Linked DNA regions of Homo sapiens: region 2 is reported to be linked to region 1. Evidence: microRNA targets listed by miRTarBase, many of them from high-throughput screens and not tested one by one. Region 1 holds a microRNA gene; the other region holds the end of a gene's coding sequence.
Evidence for each region. Region 1 holds the annotated microRNA hsa-miR-216a-3p (UCACAGUGGUCUCUGGGAUUAU, at 3,400-3,421, opposite strand). A microRNA usually pairs through its seed, bases 2 to 8, with sites in the 3' UTR of a target mRNA and lowers its output. Matches are read on the target gene's strand: a 7mer-m8 pairs with bases 2 to 8, a 7mer-A1 pairs with bases 2 to 7 and ends in A, and an 8mer does both.

Region 1 (5,073 bases):
GTAACTTCCTGTTTTCATTTCCTTTCACCGCAGAGAAATCACAGAACAGAAACTCTGCTTTTCTCTGGCCAACTAATCACTACTTGAGTTTGGAAATATAACTAACATGCCTGTAGACAATGCAAAATGATAGTAAGCAATACAACTGAGATTGGCCACTATAAAACAGAATCCTAAAATTCAGGTCACAGTTTTGAGCAATCTTTAGAGCATTGTATATGCTGAAGAGTATTTCCCAGTAATTGAGGTGTGTATAATATAACTAAAAAGCAGAGGATCACCCTTTCCAGGGTATTTCAAGAGTTTTTCCAGAGAGATCCTCCTGGTATGTCCATGCCAGGTGACGAGCCCAAATTGGGTACCTTGCAGGGTTACGGATCCTGAGGGGACTTATCTGATACAGAATTAAGTCTGTAACCAGAAAAGCTCTTTCTGTCCTGCTCTACCTTAATGATAGACAGCTCTGGCTTGGATAAGACGGTTATAGAGACTCATCTATAGGAGTTTCATGGTGAATCTTGCAGTGATCATTAAAAACAGAAGCCATTTTTGTTTATTTTGTTTTGCTATTGTTTTGGTTGGGCTGAGGGCAGGCTGCCAAAGGAGGGAAAAGTGGGACTTTCTGGGCATTCAATAAGTGTTCATCATTTAGTGGTACAGCATGGGGGAGGGCCACAGAAAACTCTAATCTGGATTTCCACAGAAGACAAACATTTGGAGCCTGGGGCCATCTTTACCAGGCAGAAATATAATTCAGGTTTTCAACAAAAGCTCAGGATCACAGATTCAGCAGACATCTAAGGTCTAGTCCTGCGGACTGGCAGTAGGTTCTGCTTGTTTGCTCTGATTAAGAGGCCGGCTGCTTGCACCTTGACTTTCATAGTCTTCATGGTACAGGTGGAAAAGGGATAATAAGTGCCACGCTCTAGGTGCTGGTGAATGAGATGATGAGCTAGGAATGCTGAGGACTTAGTTCCCAGGAGCCCTAACAAGGTCTTCGGTCATCAGCAAGACAGAGCCTCTTTACTAAAAGGGTGGGAATCCTGTTGTACTCTATTTTTACTGAAGACTGGCATAAACCCAGTCTAACAAATGATATTTTGAATGTCTCATTGACAGAGATGCCAAATCCTTCACTTATTTTGATGCTAATTACTACCAGGATGTAATTCTAAAATTATTAAGCTTTAAAAGAAAAGTCAGAATCTATGTGTTGAAAGGATAAGTGATTTTCTTTTTTTCTTGAAACAGTGACTCAAGCTGTTGCCTAAAGGAGTTGGGGCTCCTGATTTCTGAGCTAATTTCCTTTTTGTTCTTTCATACTAGCTTTCCTCTTGGTTGGAATCTGCCTATCCTGTGGTCTTACATTCCTAAAGTTAAATGACAAGGAAGTTATTTGCAGTCCACAATAACTATTTTTCTTTAAAGTTTATACATGGTTAGATTCTAAGAAAAGTCTATTAAACTGTGTTACTGGTAAATAAGTCATGCCACTTCTTTAATTAAAACTCTCCAATTGCTTGTGGAGTCCCTCACACTAAAACCCCAAATTCTTACCATAGTCTACCTAGCTATACCCTCTAATCCTCTCCTTCCAGTTTTTCTCACTGCACTCCAACCACAGCTTCCCTGTTGAGCTCAAATACAGTGATTCTCACCTTTGGCTGCACATTACAATCCCCTGGGTGCCTCTTAAACAGAGATGCCCAGATCCCATCCCAGGCATTCTGATTTATCAGTGGCACAGCCCTTGATATTGACATTTTCAAAAGCTCCCTGTGCCTCTATGTGCAGAGAGCACTGGGAACATCTGGAGACTGCAAGAGTGCACTGAGTGTACACACAAGCAAGGCAACAAGCATGGTTCCTGATGCATCATATGTACTCAGCTCTTCAAAAAATATTTCCTGCTCTGTTTAATTACATTTATCTTCTTCCCTTTTTGAAAAATGGTCACCAAAAATTGGAATTGGGAATTTTTTCATGTTTGAAAAAATGATTATTTCAACTAGCAGGAGGATACAGACAACATTTAGAAAGTTTCAGCAGCAGCTTAAAAGAGCCCTTAATGAGTCCTGAAAATTAATACGAAGCCCTCTCCTTACCAGAGGTAAGTTATTTCCTGGCTTATGGTTCAGTATTTGTGCTATTAGTATGTGAATAACTAGTTCTCAAACTTACCTCCTACTGCTCAACATCAATTTCTGGCAAGGAAATCTAATAGGTCATACTAATGTGCCTTGATACAGAAATGTAATTTTTTTTTTTTTTTTTTTTGAGACAGAGTCTCGCTCTGTCGCCCAGGTTGGAGTGCAGTGGCGCAATCTTGGCTCACTGCAACCTCCGCCTCCTGAGTTCACTCCATTCTCCTGCCTTAGCCTCCTGAGTAGCTGGGACTACAGGTGCCCGCCACCATGCCCAGCTAATTTTTTGTATTTTTAGTAGAGACAGGGTTTCACCGTGTTAGCCACGATGGTCTCGATCCCCTGACCTCATGATCCGCCTGCCTCAGCCTCCCAAAGTGCTGGGATTACAGGCGTAAGCCACTGCGCCCGGCCCAGAAATGTAATTTAATCAAACTGAGATATACAGACTTCTCTTTCTGAGGATACCTGAGGGGATATGTGCCAGTCAAGACCTTGGAAATAGCATTTTAATAATTTTTGTTGTTAAAGTTATCCCACATTTAATTATAAATTTGGTTCATCTGATTTGTTTTGTGTTACTGGGTGAATGAGGAAGATAACTGGCCTTGATTTTTCACCCTGAAGAATTACATTTGTTCTTATTCTTTTTATGGAAAAGGATTATCTGTTTCCAGGGATCACCGAGAATTAGAGTTGGGTACAGCTCAAAAGTTTCATGGCAACCTCAGCCTAAGCCATAGTTGATTCTAAATTTCAATATTATTTAGGGCAGATGAATGTGAAACACTTACAGAAGGAATGAGGAAGGGCGATTAAATGTGATAATCTGGGGAGTTGAAGTTTGAGGAGGGCCTGGCAGGAGATCGTCCTCTTTTAGACTGTTTGGAATTTGATGGAGTAGCACCCACAAAGAGAGTGGGAGGAGCTTTCAGAGGGAAAATATTTTGGGTTCAGCTTCTAACACCCAAACTCCCTTGGCTGCAATTTTTTAAAAAACCAAGTAGCACTGAAGGAGCGCAGTAAGTAGCAAGCGAATCCAATAAAGGCAAATTAATTCCCAAGGCTGGTTTCCTTTCCAGCACAACAGCACTTTAGAAAAAGACTTTACTAAGATTAAAAGAGGTTGAGCATGAAACAGTAACCATCGAAACTTTTCCCCCCGTCTTGGTCATGAAATAGAAATTTGGTGTTTAATTTTGGTTGCCATGCAAGTCTTTTGATTCGTGAGGGCTAGGAAATTGCTCTGTTTAGCATAATCCCAGAGACCACTGTGAGGGATTGTATGAACATCTCACAGTTGCCAGCTGAGATTAAGCCAACTCACAGCCATCCGTGTTAGACCTGCAAGAGAAAGTGTATGAGCAGAGGCACGTGGCTGCCTCAGGTGGAAGCACATCTTCATACATCGAGTGCACCAGCAGAAGCCCTGATGTACCCCTCTGCATTTTTCTTGAGGCGACATTATCAAGCTACTCCTCTTGCTGAATTCACAGATTTCTGGCATATGCTATATTGCATGTAATGTCATAAAAGTATAATCTTTGCATTTAGAAAGGATTTACTCTAATCCATATATAGTAAGAAACAGCCAAGTAGGAGTACAGGTGAATGTAAAACCAATCACTAAAAATGATTTTTTAAACAAGCTTTATAGAGAACTTGGAAACATCAAAGCCAAACACTCTAAAATTTGTCCTCAGACAAGAAAACCAGCAATTACGTTGAAAAAGTAATGACCGTATACTCACCAAATGGCCAGATGTGTCAATAGCGGTGGCTATTACCTTTCATAGATGGTGGTATGTCCTCCCCTCTTGCCCACATCACTGTCATGGCTAAGTGAGACTGAGCCATGATCTAAGCCCCTCAGTCCACTGGGTGGGGCTAATCAATGGTAAGAATAATGATTAAGAACGGAAGGAAGAGGAAACGCCCTCAGAGTTTCCCCACCATCTGCCGTGGATGGCATCTCAACTTGAGTGAGTGTAAGAAGCACATAGGAAACTTGTTACAAATGTAGATCCCCAGGACCTACCTCTATATTTTGATTCAGTAGGTCTGGTTTTGGTGGCTGCGATTTGCACTTCGGTGGAGATTTTCCACTGCCTTTCTCCAGCTTCACTTCATACTAGACCATTTCTTCCTCTACATTGTAGACTCCAGCTCTAACAAGTTCTGAGAATCCAATGAGCTGTGTTTGCCCATACTTGGAATTATTTCTTCTTTCTCTCTCCCTCCTCTCTCTCTCTTTCACACACACACACACACACACACACACACACACCCCCTTGTGTGACAGTCACACATTGAAAACTATCACACACTGCCTTCTCTCCCCAGTCTCCCTTTTTTGGCACCTGTAATACACAATGGTGTTTTCTCACTCACATGCTTTCTCCTTCATTGACTGCAAACTTCCAAGTGTTGGCACTGTGCTTATTCATCTCTATATCCTCAACTATACTATTCTCAGTTTAGCATCTGATGTTTAATAAGTGCTCAAAAAAATTTTGTCAAACTAAATCAAATGTTTGTTGAAGCAAAGAATTATGGATTTCAGCTCATAACTTGTCCTTTAATAATTGAGACTTGACACAATTAAGAGAGTGGTAATTTACAGAGTTAGAAAAGTGGCTTTTCGTTTTAAAAGTCAGGTAAATATAAAGTTACAAAACAATTGAGAAAGAACAATTGAATATAATCTTGTGCCTCATATGGACTCCTAAGTACAAAGCTACTTTTGTAAAATAAGAATGTCTCATCATTAGGATTTAACTTTTTAAATATTGTTCTAAGTTTATTTTCTGGAGTCAAATTGCTCAGGATTAAAAATAAGCAGATTTTATCTTAATCAAAAAACAAGGGCTTCTCAGAGCAACATGAATGACGTTCAGTTTTTTCTTTTCTCTTAATCTTATATTTGATT
Region 2 (5,073 bases), not on the chromosome of region 1:
TTGTGACTTTTCAAATGTCTGGCAAAAATTTTTTAAAAATTAGATTTTCAAGTTTATAGGGATGCCTTATTTATTGGGTTATGTATAGTTATATCACTTAGAAAGCATTCCAGCTGGTTACACATGAAATATTGACTACATAACATGCTATCTTTCTGAAATTTAAAAACTGGACTTTTCCAAACAAAATCAGTATATTTACTACATAATACATGTGATGTCAGGAAAGGAGACAGAGTAGACGTGGAATTTTGTCCATTTCATTTATAAAACTCAAAACTTTTTCTACTTCTAAGACAATTTTTAAGTTTCGTAAATAAATAGTTCTGTTCTAGTAAATAAATATATTTACTTTATATTTCTAAATTTGCCAAAATACATTTCAAAATTGAACTAGTTTCAGTCCCACCAACAGTGTAAAAGTGTTCCTATTTCTCCACATCCTCTCCAGCACCTGTTGTTTCCTGACTTTTTAATGATCGCCATTCTAACTGGTGTGAGATGGTATCTCATTGTGGTTTTGATTTGCATTTCTCTGATGGCCAGTGATGGTGAGCATTTTTTCATGTGTTGTTTGGCTGCATAAATGTCTTCTTTTGAGAAGTGCCTGTTCATGTCCTTCGCCCACTTTTTGATGGGGTTGTTTGTTTTTTTCTTGTAAATTTGTTTGAGTTCATTGTAGATTCTGGATATTAGCCCTTTGTCAGATGAGTAGGTTGTGAAAATTTTCTCCCATTTTGTAGGTTGCCTGTTCACTCAGGGATCTAGAACTAGAAATACCATTTGACCCAGCCATCCCATTACTGGGTATATACCCAAAGGACTATAAATCATGCAGCTATAAAGACACATGCACACGTATGTTTATTGCGGCACTATTCACAATAGCAAAGACTTGGAACCAACCCAAATGTCCAACAATGATAGACTGGATTAAGAAAATGTGGCACATATACACCATGGAATACCATGCAGCCATCAAAAATGATAAGTTCATGTCCTTTGTAGGGACATGGATGAAATTGGAAATCATCATTCTCAGTAAACTATCGCAAGAACAAAAAACCAAACACCGCATATTCTCACTCATAGGTGGGAACTGAACAATGAGAACACATGGACACAGGAAGGGGAACATCACACTCTGGGGACTGTTGTGGGGTGGGGGGAGAGGGGAGGGATAGCATTGGGAGATATACCTAATGCTAGATGACGAGTTAGTGGGTGCAGCGCACCAGCATGGCACATGTATACATATGTAACTAACCTGCACATTGTGCACATGTACCCTAAAACTTAAAGTATAATAATAATAAAATAAAATAAATAAAATAAAATAAAAAAAGAAAGTAATCACTAAGGATTTAAAGGAAAAGGAATTGATTTTTTTTAATGCAGACATGATGAGAACTTTATAAGACAAACATTGTTGTAGTTTTTCAAGATAGAAAAAAATACATTTCAAAATTGGACATTAGATCACTGTGAGTGGACTTCTGAAATGTGATGGCTTGAGTTTTGAAAATCAGGAGCTAACTGAAAGCTGATCAAATGAGTCAATCAGCTTTGATAAGTGGAGAGGAGAGATTAGAAAAATAGTAACAAACATGGCAAGCTAAACATATTTCTTTGGCAGGGGCTTTGAAAGAGGCAGTGTTCCTCATAAGAGGCTCTAAGCCTAGCTTTGTCATGATAAAATATAAGATGAAGATTTAAAAACTTACAAATGGTATCTTTGGATGACTGGATTACGGTTTTGTTTATATTCTCCCTATATTCATGATCCAAATATGTATGATGACATTATATAAATAATTATAAGAAGTACTAACATTTTAAAATGTTCTTTATAGAAATTTCAAAATACGAAAGCATTAAAAAAAACTCCACAGGCTCAAAAATGTTGTTATATATTGTTTTAGATAAACTACAATCCTGAAATAATTTAATAATTAATTAGTAAATGAATTATTATGTTATGAAACATCTACTATATTAGGCACTGTGCTAGAAACTGAGCTCCAGGGAGACTAAAACAAAATCATTGTTGTGAAAGGGCACAGGTTGGCACAGAAATGATAATGCATAATTTATTTAATAATTTCATAATTATTACATTTATTATTAATAATAAATTCATGATAAAGCATTAGTTTAATAGGATATTTGAAAAGAAGATAAAACAGTACTGGTTTAAGTATAAACATACATTGATGGCCTAATGTCTAATTTTGGAATGCTGTACTTTGGAAACGTATATGCATTGTGGAATCAAGTAAGTAAGGTAATTTGGATCACGAAATTTGTAAAATGGTGTAATTACTGTCAGTGTTTCTCTATGCCTATGTTGTCAAAACTCAGATGCATGAGAATCACTTGGGAAACTGTCAAAATAGTAATTCCTGATTCTGGTGATTCAGGTGGTCACAGTGGCTGGTTGGGGGTGGGACGAGCACCCAACTGTCAACATTTTTAACACTTTCCCTAGGTAATTATGATGCACGTAAGGCGTCTATGTTTCCCTAAACACTAACATATACAAGGTTTAAAAAAAAGTTTACAGAATTTGAGTTAGAAACTTTCCTTGCTATGTTCCTTTGGAAATAATATAATGCTTTCCACATAACTAGTTACTTGCCTTTGGCCCCTTAGTTAAGGATAGTGAGTTAGGGACAGTTTTGAGCTGGATTTCTAACTCTTAGTTAATTAATCAATCAAAATAATTAATAATTTAATATCTACTATGTCGGGCACTATACCAGAAACTGTCTGGAGAAAAGGGCACACACTCACAAAGAAATAACAATGCCAAATACTTAATATAGTTTTTAAGAACTTACAGAGTAGTTTCATGGTTCAGGTATGGACAAGAAGGGAGTGTGTTTCCGCTTTAAAGAAAATTTGTTCTCCCAATGTAATTTACATGTCTAGGTAAGTCTGTTAAACTGGGTGGGCAGGCCTGCCAAGAGTCTCCTTTGAGAAAATCCGTATCAAGGATAGAAACACAGGCACAAATAAAGCCTTCAGCCTGTTTGTATTGTGGAGGTTTGCAGTAATGCAATTCAGGGCACACTCAGATGCATTTTCTCAGTTAGGCCGCAGTGCACTCTTGTCTGAGTTATTTGAAGGAGTTATGAAAGAAAACCAGAAAGGGCTATTTTTCTAAGAACCAATGTAATCCCAAGAACCACAAGAGTTGTACTCACCAGGATAAATATAACTCTCAAGTTATAAAGACATTCTCCACAATTCTATAGAGGTCAAAGGGGGATTTGGCTCACCAGAGACTCCAGAGAAATCAGTGGGGCTTGTTACCTTGAAGACCCTAGCACCTCATCAACAGCAACAGAAATAGGATCCAGCAGAAGGGAAAGTGTGGCCAATCAAGAAGGCAGTAATCAGGGGAGCAGGAGGATTGCAAATAACAAGAATGATATGGGGGAACCCACCTATTTTCACTGTCTGGACTTGTAAACATGAGTGATAATTCCTCCAGTCCTAAGTACCTGATGGGGGTCCCGGTCCTGTTAAATGTTGGGGAGTTGGGGACAGAAGCCAGCCCAACACAGTTCCACATTTCATCAGTTCCACTCAGCAGCCCTGTAAGACAAGCATTGTTCCCCATTTCACAGAGCAGAAAACGGGCTCTTTAAAGGAATGCATCTGTAATAAAGGGAAGGTTTATTATTCCAGTTAAGACTGAAGGATAGTTAGAGTTTACTCTTCAAATTTGTTGAGCCAGTATTGTTACGTATCTGCACTACATTCATAATCTCATTGAAAAATAATTTTCATTGCTTCTCAAACTCCAGATAATAAAAGGAAAAAAATGTCACATATTACTTTTTTTTTTTTGAGACTGTCTGGCTCTGTCGTCCAGGCTGGAGTGCAGTGGCGTGATCTCGGCTCACTGCAACCTCCGCCTTCCGGGTTCAAGCCATTCTCCTGCCTCAGCCTCCCGAGTAGCTGGGATTACAGGCGTGTGCCATCACGACCGGCTAATTTTTTGTATTTTTTTTTCAGTAGAGACAGGGTTTCACCGTGTTAGCCAGGATGGTCTCGATCTCCTGACCTCGTGATCTGCCTACCTTAGCCTCCCAAAGTGCTGGGATTAGTTAACACACAGAAATGTTCACCAATTAACACTCTAGTGTATTTAATCTCAGATTTTTTTTTAGTTCATCTGTTATATGTAAGTATACATTTTTAATGAGACAATAAATGTATAGATTGCTTTTTAAATTGCTTTATTAGCTTTAAATTTTTCCATGCAAATGGGTGAAACTACTGCTGACAGAAACTTACACTGAGTGCAAAGGCAATCTTCAAATAGAAGCTGGCAACACAAGACCCACTTGACACATGGAAATAACATAGGGTTCACAGCAAACGGATCAGTAAAGGCATATTAGGAAAATGCAAGGAAAAAGAAAACAGCGGGAATCACAGTATTAATCTCATGATAAATGGCAGGAGTCAAGGCATAAGGCAAAATTCATCATGATGGTCATGGTGATTAGAGAGCTCCCCCATAAGGATACGCAGACAATTCCTCAACTGCAGCTCCCTAAGTTTTCTTCTGATTTCTCTCATCTCCTCCATGAATATTTCCATATCATCTCCATCTCCACCCATCCCATCATTGATCTGCCTATTGGGTATGGCCCATCGAAAATTAGGGGCAAGTCGGCGAGCCTGTCCCCGTCGATTTCCTGCAGGCTGGTGGCCTTCACCTCCTCCCAAAGGGCGGTCTTCCTCTCCATTCTGCATAGGCTGCTCCATCTCTTCGTTTTCCTGGTGAATATTTGCCATGATGAGATTTTTTTTTTCTGGTTGTTTTTCTTTGAACACAAGTAAGACAAAGGCAAGGAGAGAGACTGAATGCTTGGTGCTCTGACCAGCAGGATTCAGAGCCCTGATATCAAAGGATTTTTTAATTTCGTTTTTTCCCACCTTAGAAGTTCCGCGCGTCCTCTACGGGGCCTCCAATTAAAGCCCCTCCCTCCAGCTTTCTCCCCTTACCTCCCTTCCCCCAAACCCACCATTTTTCGTTTCCCGGGATTCTTTCCCAGA

Region 2: the mRNA of BEX3 is a reported target of hsa-miR-216a-3p. Seed matches in the 3' UTR shown: 7mer-A1 at 4,444-4,450.

The regions. Positions count from the first base shown.
Region 1 is chr2:55,985,582-55,990,654 of GRCh38, forward strand. MIR216A (microRNA 216a) reads right to left here and starts at 3,478; the gene lies at 3,369-3,478. The region is part of intron 2 of MIR217HG (MIR217 host gene); the gene reads right to left. The region is part of intron 3 of LOC105374690 (a long non-coding RNA gene); the gene reads left to right.
Region 2 is chrX:103,377,231-103,382,303 of GRCh38, reverse strand. It overlaps BEX3 (brain expressed X-linked 3), which reads right to left. Exons shown (of 3, transcript NM_206917.3): 3 at 4,140-4,794. The coding sequence starts at 4,782. The coding sequence ends at 4,477. Among named protein-coding and RNA genes, the nearest start is that of BEX3, 3.2 kb to the right of the region's middle.